3 linked regions of the Homo sapiens genome follow. The protein of the gene in region 1 interacts with the protein of each later gene in a pairwise test. Each region holds a gene or a part of one and is shown in the gene's direction. Other genes may lie near its edges.

Evidence for each region.
Region 2: the proteins of CLDN2 (region 1) and TEX264 interact in binary tests that used the Homo sapiens proteins (3 or more experiments, as listed by UniProt).
Region 3: the proteins of CLDN2 (region 1) and CSGALNACT2 interact in binary tests that used the Homo sapiens proteins (3 or more experiments, as listed by UniProt).

Annotation. Positions count from the first base shown.
Region 1 is NC_000023.11:106,923,276-106,927,026, forward strand, and holds part of CLDN2 (claudin-2), read left to right. Parts: intron 1-3,751. UniProt on the Homo sapiens protein: Forms paracellular channels: polymerizes in tight junction strands with cation- and water-selective channels through the strands, conveying epithelial permeability in a process known as paracellular tight junction permeability.
Region 2 is NC_000003.12:51,674,236-51,677,986, forward strand, and holds part of TEX264 (testis-expressed protein 264), read left to right. Parts: intron 1-35; coding exon of another isoform or gene 36-69; coding exon 70-327; intron 328-3,751. UniProt on the Homo sapiens protein: Major reticulophagy (also called ER-phagy) receptor that acts independently of other candidate reticulophagy receptors to remodel subdomains of the endoplasmic reticulum into autophagosomes upon nutrient stress, which then fuse with lysosomes for endoplasmic reticulum turnover.
Region 3 is NC_000010.11:43,148,335-43,152,085, forward strand, and holds part of CSGALNACT2 (chondroitin sulfate N-acetylgalactosaminyltransferase 2), read left to right. Parts: intron 1-1,452; exon of another isoform or gene 1,453-1,809; intron 1,810-3,751. UniProt on the Homo sapiens protein: Transfers 1,4-N-acetylgalactosamine (GalNAc) from UDP-GalNAc to the non-reducing end of glucuronic acid (GlcUA). Required for addition of the first GalNAc to the core tetrasaccharide linker and for elongation of chondroitin chains.

The DNA of each region.
Region 1 (3,751 bases):
CTCCTGAAGATTTTTAAGCATGGCAAAGCGTGAGGTGAAAGTCACAATTTGATTTCAACTTTACAAAGATCTTTGACTACTGGGTAGGTAATTCATTATTGCAGGATTGGGGCAGAAGTGGAATTAGAGAGATCAATTTGAGGTGTCTATGAGATTTTCAAATAGACAAGAAACGATGGTTGCATAGTCTGAACTATGGTTTAGGGCAGTGGCGACAGAAAGAAGTAGATGGATTCACAGTCTATTTTTGAAGGCAGACCTGATGGTACATTATAATTAATTATATGTCAACAAGAGGTGAAAAAGCAAGGATGACTGGCTTGGGTTATTAACTCAGTGACAGCCCCACTGAGGTAAGGAACACTGCATGAGGAGCAGTTTGGGCATGGGGAGCAAAAAGGGCAGATGATTCCAGCTTTGCAAATGTTGAATTTGAGGCCATTAAAACATTCAGGTAGGGCCATTCCAAGTAATAGTTAACTACACAAATCTTGAGTTCAGGAGAGAAATCTGTGGCAGAGATATGAATTCAGGAGTCACTGGCATGGAGACAGAGAGGATGAGATAACCCATGAAGAATGTGAAGGATAAGAAGAGCCATCTAGAAGTCGAGATGAAACCCTGAGGAGGCTAGAGGGGCAGAGATGGATAGTTAGACTTAAAGAGTGAGCAGAAGAAGAGGAACTTATAAGGGAAAACTAGAAGAATCATTTTGAGAAGTAGTTAAAATGGAGTGGTGTTACAGAAAACAAGGGAGAAGATAGTTTTATGAAGGAGAGAGACAAGGTGAGATGACAGAGATATGATCATTGAATTTTGGATCAAGAAAAGAGTTGATAACTTTGGTGAGAATATTTTCAGTGGAGGGCTAATGGTGGAAGCCAGACTGCAGAGGGCTGAGCAGTGAGTGGGAGGGTGAAGAAGTGGAGACATCAATAATGAATGGCTTGTTTAAGGATCTTGGCTGCAAAGAGAATGATCAAGATAGGAGTAATAGCTGCACAGGGAGGAGGTAGAGTAGGGAGCTCAAAAAGTAGTAGTAAATGTTTGAAGCAGTCATCAGAAGGGTGCTTACCAGGGAGAAGTAGAAGGATTTCCAAGCAGCACTGAAGGCCTCAATGAGATACATAGTCATGATCAGGACAGGTACAATTGTGCCAAGGTTAGCAATAAGAAACCAATGTCAAGAAAGACTTGCTAATGAGTGACAGAGGTGAGATTCAAACTATGTTTCTCTCCCTTCATCAAATGTTTATCGGCTCCTGCTCTGCACTGCTTTGCATCAACACTGGCATTGGTGTTTCCAATGCTGATGAATCGTATTGACTATCAATCATGTGCCCAATGCTGTGGAAGCATGATAGACATTTAATATATATTTTTTCACCCTTAAATTGTTTAGAATTTGGTTGAGGAGACAAAATATTCCACAAATGCATATATATTATAAATATATATAATATACATTATATATATACATAGTGAAGCTCTGCTGTCTCTCTCTCCCCCCTTACCTCTTTCTTCCTCTGATCCCCCATCTCTCTCTTTCTTCTTTCCCAACGTTGGGCAGCACTTCAATGACCCTTACACTGAAGCGTTATTGACTCATTTGGAAAGTCCCTATATTTTAGTCATATGGAGCCCCTCAAACCTCTTTGCCAACTTCATTCATTTATTAAGAAGACAGTTTTTGAATTGCTGCTCTGGATAAAGCAGTATGTAAGGCACATGAGATACAGAGATACATAAGATATAGTCTTGCCCTCAAGTAGCTCACAGGCTAATAGGGAAGAATGAGGGTTTAAACAGGAAATTGCAACATAATGCAAAATGTACTATCTCTGCCTCAGTTTCTTCATCTATACAATAGGGATTATTAGTGCCTACCACAAAAAAACCTGTGACGACTAAATAAGTTAGCATGTAAAAAGTGCTTATAATGGTCCCATAAGAAACACTACATAAGTGTTGCTATTATTATTATTACTATGATGGAAGTAAACACAAGATACTGTAAGAATAGACAGGAGGGGTACTTGACCCAGGCTAGAGTAAGAGACATCTGTGCTGAATCCTAAAAGATGAGAAGGCACTAAACAGAGGAAGAAGAATACATAACACTCTGCATAGAATATTCTGTTCTATTTCTATTTGGGAGCAAAAGACCACATGGCATGATTGAAGAACTGGAAGTAATTTAATTCCACAATAGTACAGACTATGAGGAGGGAAATGGCAAGAGATGAAGCTTGAGAGGTCATGGGGTAAACCAAGCAAGTTTGGACTTTACTTTTTAGCAAATGGGGAGCCACTGGAATGCTTTATGTAGAGTAGTGACTCGATCAGATTAATGTGTTGAAAGATCACCTTGGCAATGATGTGGAGAATGAATTGGGAGAAAGACAAGTTAGAAAGCTGTTGCTATAATCCAGGTGAAAGAGAATGATGAGGTCGTGCATGGTGGCTCACACCTGTAATCCCAGCATTTTGGGAGGCTGAGGTGGGCGGATCACTTGCAGTCAGGAGTTGGAGATCAGCCTGGCCAGCATGGCAAAACCCTGTCTCTACTAAAAATACAAAATTAGCTGGGCGTGGTGGCGTGCACCTGTAGTCCCAGCTACTCAGGAAGCTGAGGCACAAGAATCACTTGAACCTGGGAGGTGGAGATTGCAGTGAGCTAAGATCACGCCACCCCACTCCAGGCTGGGCAACAAAAGCAAAATTCGGTCTCAAAAAAAGAATGGTGAAACTGAACTAGGGAAGTAGCAGTGGAAATGGAGAGAAAGGAACCATGGATTTGAGGTATATTCATAAGGTAGAACTGGTGGGACATAGGGACTATAGGATGCAGGAGGTAAGTAGAAGAAAGGTGCTAAAGATCACTTTCCGGATTTTGGTCTGGCACAAGTGGATGGATAGAGGTATCATTCAGTGAACACAGGGAACACAGGGAAGAACTGTTTGGGGAAAGCTGCATGGGGGATGTGATGAGTTCACTTTTGGACATGTCAAATTCGAGATGTCTATGAGATTTCCCTGTGGAGATTCTGACTAGGTGATTGCTCTGCCAGTCTTGAAGCTCAGAAGGGTCTATCCTGGAAATTCAGATTTGGGAGGGTCAGTGGATGGGTAGTAGATTAAGTTATGGGGGCAAGATGAGTTTGCTCAGGGACAGAGTGTTAATTGAGAAAAGGATGGACTTCTGAGGAATACTCACATTTAAGAGATGAGTAGGGAAAGAGAAATCTTGAAGAAGGCTAAAATGGAATAGCCAGATTGTGGTGGGTTGAAAAATTAGTGGGTTAGTTCGGGCACGGTGGCTCATGCCTGTAATCCTAGCACTTTGGGAGGCTGAGGCAGGTGGATCACTTGAGCTTAGGAGTTCAAGACCAGTGTGGGCAACATGGCAAAACCTGGTCTCTACAAAAAATACACACACACACACACAACTAGCCAGGTGTGGTGATGCGCTCCTGTAGTCCCAGCTACTTGTGGGGCTGAGGCAGGAGGATCACACACACACACACACACACACACACACACACACACACAACTAGCCAGGTGTGGTGATGCGCTCCTGTAGTCCCAGCTACTTGTGGGGCTGAGGCAGGAGGATCACACACACACACACACACACACACACACACACACACACAAACTAGCCAGGTGTGGTGATGCGCTCCTGTAGTCCCAGCTACTTGTGGGGCTGAGGCAGGAGGATCACTTGAGCCCAGGAGGTCGAGGCTGCAAT
Region 2 (3,751 bases), on another chromosome or scaffold:
CTACCAGCCTCCTCTCCCTTCTTTCTCCTTTGCAGCTGCCTTGAGGTGCAGTGTTGGGGATCCAGAGCCATGTCGGACCTGCTACTACTGGGCCTGATTGGGGGCCTGACTCTCTTACTGCTGCTGACGCTGCTGGCCTTTGCCGGGTACTCAGGGCTACTGGCTGGGGTGGAAGTGAGTGCTGGGTCACCCCCCATCCGCAACGTCACTGTGGCCTACAAGTTCCACATGGGGCTCTATGGTGAGACTGGGCGGCTTTTCACTGAGAGCTGCAGCATCTCTCCCAAGCTCCGCTCCATCGCTGTCTACTATGACAACCCCCACATGGTAAGGAGTCTCCATGGGGTTCTGCCCCATGGATGGGCCTGGTGGGCCAGGGCTTCTTTGGGGAGGGTAGTTTTGGTTGCTGAGGAAAGGGTGGGAGAATCTTCAAGCTGGCCCTGCAGACCCCTCCTCTATGAGCTTGAAGCACCTTCCAGATTTAGCCTGGACTTCTGCTCCCGGCATCCATTTGTGGGCTTTCTATTTGCCCAGGTCTGGTTCCCCTTGCCCATGGCTACTTGTGGATTTCCAAATGCAGTGGACTATACCACCATGAATCCCTGGCTTCTGCCAGGACTTTGGTCCCCTGCCTCCTCTTCTTGTCATCCCTCCTTCCATCTCCATTTGGGGCCAGTGCTCTAAGGCCAGGCCATTCAGATTCTGCCCACTCTTTGGGGTTACATCTTGCTGTTTCTGTGCTTTCCATCCCTCAGCTCTTCTGCCATAGTTGTAGGCCCTTGAGGGCTGAGAGGGCAGTCCCTGGGGATGGGGCTTGGAATCTTACCTCTTCAGCCATTCTGATGCCCCTCAACCTGGTGATATGGCATTTCCTTAGACCTCAAGCTGGTGCTGGGAGATGGCCAAGGGGGCTAGTGGAGCCAGATGAGTTACTTAGAATGTTCAGAATGCTGAAGTCAAAAACTAATCCAGCATCACTAGCACCCTGTGAGCGTCTGGCTGTTCTTACAACCTATGGTGAGTCAGAGCTTGCTAATGTAACCTACTGCTATGCTATGGGGTGGTGCTGCCCACAGCTGGATGGGCTGGCAGCTCTGTCAAGGGTTCTTCAGCCTCTACTACTAAGCCATGCCAAACCAAGCATTTGGAATCCCCAGCTCTGATTTCCTTGCCTGGAGAGCTCAAGTGCACAAGTCCTGCAGTCTACCCAATGTGTGCTGACCGGCTTACTGGGGCACTAGTTGAAACAGGATGTACTGGTTCCCTCTCTGTGCCAGGTTCTACTCTACACCTACACTCTGGAGATGAATCAGACCTGGCTCTGCCCTCAGGAAGCTCTGTGTGGCTGACATGTCAGCCCCACATAAGTGATTCTCCAACAAGACACTGTGCTTGATGTCCACAGAACTTTGAGCTGTAGGTTCAGGGAGGCTGCCATGAGTCTGCTGGGGAGGCTCAGAGAAGGGGTAGATTTCAGCTGGGCCTTCTCATGTAAGTAGAATTTTGCTTTGTTGGGAAGGGGTACTTGGCTAAGAAAACTGTGACAGCAAGAGCCTGAAGACATGGGATGACCAGAGAATTGTGGTTAGTAGACATGTCTTGGGTGGAGAAAGGTGGAAGGGTTTGCCCAGCCAGGTGGTGGGGAAGTACAGCAGGTTGAGAAGAAGGATGTGGCACAATTTGCCACCTTTGTTTTAGGAAGTTAGCTGAAGGGCAGGTGGAGGAGGGAAGGAGATGAGGCAGGAGGCCGTAGAAGAGATTGGGCTGGGTCCAGGTGAGAGGCGACATGGGTTGGTTGAGGTTTTGCAGTCACATGGCCAGGAGATGGCACTAACTGAAGTTGGGAGCACTGGAGCCTGAGTGGGATGGGACAGACAGTGGGCTATGGGGAGCTCCTAGAGCAGATGTGTGACCCTCACCCCTTCAAGGGCTCCGTTGTGTAAGGCCCTGCCCCCCCTTCCACACCTGGCCCAGTCAGAGCCTTCTGCAAGAAGAGTCCTTGCAGCTGGCTGTCTTCTCATTGGCGTGTCTGCCTGTTCTGGAATCAACAGGTTGCCTCTTGGGTTGGAGGTGCTAATTCCTGGATGGGAAAGGGCTAAGGCAGCAGGGTACCCTGGGGTCAGTGCTGGAGGCTGGTCTAGGGAAGAGTGAGATGGAAGAAGCCTGGCATGGGATATTCTGGCCTGGCCACTGCCTCCTGCAGCTTTCCCAGAGATGTGGTGGACCCCATGGGGTGGGCCCTGGGTCTCCAGGGTTGGTTGGTCATAGTCTGACTAGGGTGCTTGTCTGGGGGACTGTGGCCTGAGAGCACAGCCTTGAGGCTAGCAGTCCCGAGTTCTGATTCTGTCCCATCACTGTCCTGCTGAGTGATCTTAGGCATATCCCATAATGTTTCTGAGCCTCTATTTCCTTGTCTGCAGAGTAATGATAAAATACCTGCTTCATAGTAGACTGAGAAGAGTTAAGTGATATAGGTGAGGCATTTACCCCAGCACTTAGCCCTCAACAGATGCTTAACAACAACAAAGATGGGTGGGAAAACCACTTGTGCTAACATATGCTGAGAGGTCAGACTGAGCAAACCTAGACCCTTGGCCTGGCTGTGGTCATTTGGGTGGCACAGAGGATGATGAACAAGTCAAGGTGGCCCTTCTGACCCTGCCCATCCCAGTCCTGGGTCAGTCCAGAAGACACCTGTGTCCCCATTTAGAGCTAGGTCACACTTGGCACCTGGGATGGCTCAGGGACACTTGGGTCCCCATTTACTCTTGGAGCTGGTCAGTGCATTCTCTGCCTGACAGAGATTGTAACAGGTTCAGGGAACCATGGACCCCCAGGCTTCAGGTGCTCGTGGCTATCACAGACTGGTCCGGAAGGACCTGAGGCCTCCTGGTCCACACTCCATATTATGGAGGGAGAAACAGATTCAGATAGTAGGAGAAAGGCACTGATCTCATATGTTTTTGTTTTCATTTAACAAATATCTGAGCACCTGCTCTGTACCAGGCTCTGTGTTGGGCACTAGGGTACCATGGGGACCAGGACCTGCCAGTGTGTGGGTGTTAGGAGCCTAGAGGAAAGGCCCCATCCTGGTCCTGGAGTGGGCTGAGAACCAAAGGTTTTTGTCCCCTAGGCTGCCTCCACCAGCAGTGTGCAGCGTGGCATGCTCTGGTTCTCAGAGAAAGAGAATAGAGGCTGACCTGTTCAGTGTCCCACCCCCACTGTGTCCTTCCCTAGCCCAGAGTGACAGGAGCCAGAACCTGCTTCTCTGTGAGTGTGGGGAGGCAGTGAGGCTGTGTCAGGCTCTGTGAGTGGGGTGGTGAGTAACCAGGTGAGAGGTGCCACCTGGCTTTAGATGCTGCCCACCCCATGAGGTGTGACGGACAGCTCCCTAGCCATGCCTCGTCCTGTCCTCAGCTGGGCAGGGAGTAGGCTGGTCCCACCTAGGCTGGGTGTGGACCCAGGAAGTAGCACAAGAAAGGGTACCACTAAGATTGGACAGTGGCAGTTGGTGTGGACCTGTTCATAGTAGCTGCTGCTGGAGCTGTTAGCCTTGTGCCCTGGAGTCCTGTATGGGAAGAGGCTGCAGGTCTGGGTGAGTGGTTCTTGTGAGGCAGGAGGAAGGATTCCATTCTCCATCCCTGAAACCCTTGGCATGGTTGGGAATGGGAAGGTGGGGAAGAAGTCTTTTGGGAAGTGGACAGACCCTGGCAGGGGCTCATGGGTGTACTCACCCACCTCAGAGCCCAGC
Region 3 (3,751 bases), on another chromosome or scaffold:
AATTTCATTTTTCTTGTTCAATATTATTTGGGTTATTCTGGGTTTCTTGAATTTGTATAAATTTTAAGATCAGCTTGCCAATTTCTGCAAGAAGTCCACTGGGATTCTTGAAGAGGATTGTGTTTAATCTGTACATTAATTGGGGAATATTACCATTTTAGCAATATTAAGCCTTCCAATCATGAGTGTGGTGTCTTTCTGTTTATTTAAATCTTAACTTTCTTCCAACAATGTTTTGTAGTTTCTATGAATACAAGTCTTGCAGTTCTTTTGTTAACATTATTCCTATTTTATTCTTTTTGATGCCATATTGTATACAGGATTGTTTTTTTAATTTCATTTTCAGATTGCTTGTTGCTAATGTAGAGAAATACAATTGATTTTTGTATATCGATATTGTATCCTACAACTGGCTGAACTCATTTATTAGTTATAATAGATTTTTAGTGAATTCCTTAGGATTTTCTGCATACAGATCATATCATCTGCAAATAAGGATAGTTTTACTTCTTCCTTTTCAATCTGGATGCCTTTTATTTCATTTTCTTGCCTAATTGCCTTGGCTACAACCTCCTCTAGTACAATATAAATAGAAGTGACAAGAACAGACATCCTTGTCTTATTCCTGATCTTGGGGGAAGGCATACAGTCTTTCATCATTAAATACAATGTTAGCTATGGGTTTTTTGTAGGTCCCTTTTCTTAGATTAGGAAGGTGTCTTCTAGTTTATTGAATGGTGTTTGGTTTGGTTTGGTTTGGTTTTTTGAGATGGAGTCTCGCTTTGTCGCCCAGGCTGCAGTGCAGTGGCGTGATCTCGGCTCACTGCAACCTCCGCCTCCCAGGTCCATGTGATTCTCCTAACTCAGCCTCCTGAGTAGCTGGGACTGCAGGTGCATGCCACCACCACACCCGGCTAATTTTTTGTATTTTTAGTAGAGGCGGGGTTTCATTGTGCTAGCCAGGATGGTCTCTATCTCCTGACCTCGTGGGATCTGCCCACCTCGGCCTTCCAAAGTGCTGGAATTACAGGTGTGAGCCACCGCACCCAGCCCCTATTGAATGGTTTTTATTAGGAAATGGTGTTGGATTTTGTCAAATGCTTTTTCCATGTCTGTTGAGATGATCAAGTGAATTTTGTCTTCTATTGATATGGTATATTGCATTAATTGATTTTCAGATGTTAAACCAACCTTGCAGTCCTGGGATAAATCTTATTTGGCCATGATGTATGATTCCTCTTATATATTGCTGGGTTCGTTTTGCTAGTATTTTGTTGAGGATTTTTGTATTTATATTCATATAGGATATTGGCCTATGGTTTTCTTTTAATGTCTGGATTTGGTAGCAGGATGATACTGACCTTATAGAATGCTTCCTCTTCTATTTTTTGGAAGAGTCTGTGAAGATAATTCTTATTTAATAATAATAATTCTTATTTAAATGTTTGCTAGGCTGGGTGTGGTGGCTCACGCCTGTGATCCCAGCACTTTTCGAGGCTGAGGCGGGTGGATCACCTGAGGTCGAGAGTTCAAGACCAGCCTGACCAACATGGAGAAACCCCATCTCTACTAAAAATACAGAATTAGCCAGGCGTGGTGGTGCATGCCTGTAATCCTAGCTACTCGGCAGGCTGAGGCAGGAGAATCCCTTGAACGTGGGAGGCGGAGGTTGCGGTGAGCTGAGATCGCGCCATTGCACTCCAGCCTGGGCAACAAGAGCGAAACTCTGTCTCAAAAAAAATAATAGTAATAATAAATAAATGTTTGGTACATTCCACCAGTGAAGCCTCTTGGCCTGGACTTTTCATTGTGAGTAGTTTTTTTATTATTATTAATTCAATCTTTTGTCATATAAGTCTATTCATATCTGGTATTTCTTCTTAAATCAGTTTTGTTAGTTTCTATCTTTCTAGGATTTTGTCCATTTTATTCAGTTATCTTTTGAAGAGATTTAGATAATAATGAGCAAAAATCTTAGTTACCAATGTCGTTAACATTAATGATGTTTTTCATTGCTTTGTATAAATCCATATTCCTTTCTGGTATTATGTTCCTCTGCCTAAAAGACTTACAGTACAGGTATGATGGTGATGAATTCCTTTAGCTTTTTATGTAGAGAAAGTATTTTGCCTTTTTCAAAGATAATTTCTCTGGGTATAGAATTGTAGGCTGGCATATTTTTCTTTTTAGTTCTTTAAAGATCATTGTTCCACTGTCTAATTACTTTCAGTTTTCAAAGAGTAATCTGTCATTATTATCTTTTGTTCCTTGTATGTGATGTGCATTTTTCATGTGGCCAGTTTAAAGATTTTCTCTTTACATTGGATTTGAGCAATTTGATTATCATGTACCTTGCTATAATTTTCTTTATGGCTATTTGGGATTGGTTGAGCTTCTTATGTGTGTTTATAGTTTCCATCAAATTTGGGAAATTTTCAGCCTTATTTGTTTAAGTATTTCTCCTGACTCCTTCCCCCTTCTTTGGGGACTCCAGTTACATGTATATTAGGCTGTTTGAAGTTGTCACAGAGCTTATCAATGCTTTGTTTATATTTTTGATTCTTTTTTCTTTCTGTATGTTGCATAGTTTCTTTTGCTACATCTCTAGTTTACTAATATTTTCTTCTAAAATATCTAATCTGCCATTAATCCCATTCAGTGTATTTTTCATCTCAGACACTGAAATTTTCATCTCCTGAAGTTTAACTTGGATCTCTTTTATGTCATTCATACCTCTACTTAAATTTTTGAACATAAACATCATTTTAAAAATACAGTTATGATAGCTGTTTTGGTGTCCTTTTTCTGCAGATTCCCACATCTGTCAGTTCTAATCATTGGTCAGTTTTAATTGTTGATTTTTTTCATTATGGATCATATTTTTTTATACCTGGTAATTTTTGTTGAGATGCCAGATATTGTGAATTTTATTTTGTTGAGTACTGGATATTTCTGTATTCTTATAAATATTCTTAAGGCTTGTTGTGCTATTACTTGGAAATAATGTGATCCTTTCAAGTCTTGCTTTTAAGATGTATTGGCAGGATTAGTGCCATGTTTAGTCTAGAGCTAATTATTTCCCACTACTGAGACAAGATTTTTTTGAGTGCTCTACCGAGTGCCCTGGGAATTCTGAGGTTTTCCAGTCTGTCTGTTGGGAACATGCACTAATCCTGGCCCTGTATGAATGCTGGGTTCTGTGTCCTCTAATTTTGTGTGTGGTCCTTTCCTTAGCCCGTTAGTTGCCTCATAAGCCTTTACTTATCAGTGCTCTGCCAAATACCCATGGGATATCCTATTCAGATTTCTGGAGTTCTCTCTGTGTGCAGCTGTATCCACTCTGGTACTATATGCTTTAATCCTAGATACCTTGGTCTCTTCAGACTATGAGCTGCATCCCATGAACTCAGGGAATCTGCTGGGCTCTGCTTAGGTTCCCCTCCTTGTGTGGCTCAGAAACTAAGGCAGTAAGCTGGCAACCACTTGTTTCTTGTTTCTCTGGGGATCACTGTCCTTTGTTACCTGATGTTAAATATCTTGAAAATCATTGTTTCATATTTTGGGTTTGTTGGCAGGAAAAGTTGTTTGTTTGTTTTTGGTTGTTTCAAGACAACCAAAGAGAGCAAATCTGAGAGTAAATCTGGCCCGTTACTTCATCTTGGTCGTAAAAGGAAGTCAGTTTTTTAAGCAGTTTTAGAGAGTTAGAATTGATGGCTTGTAAGGTTTCTTTCAATCCTGAGATCTTTGGCTT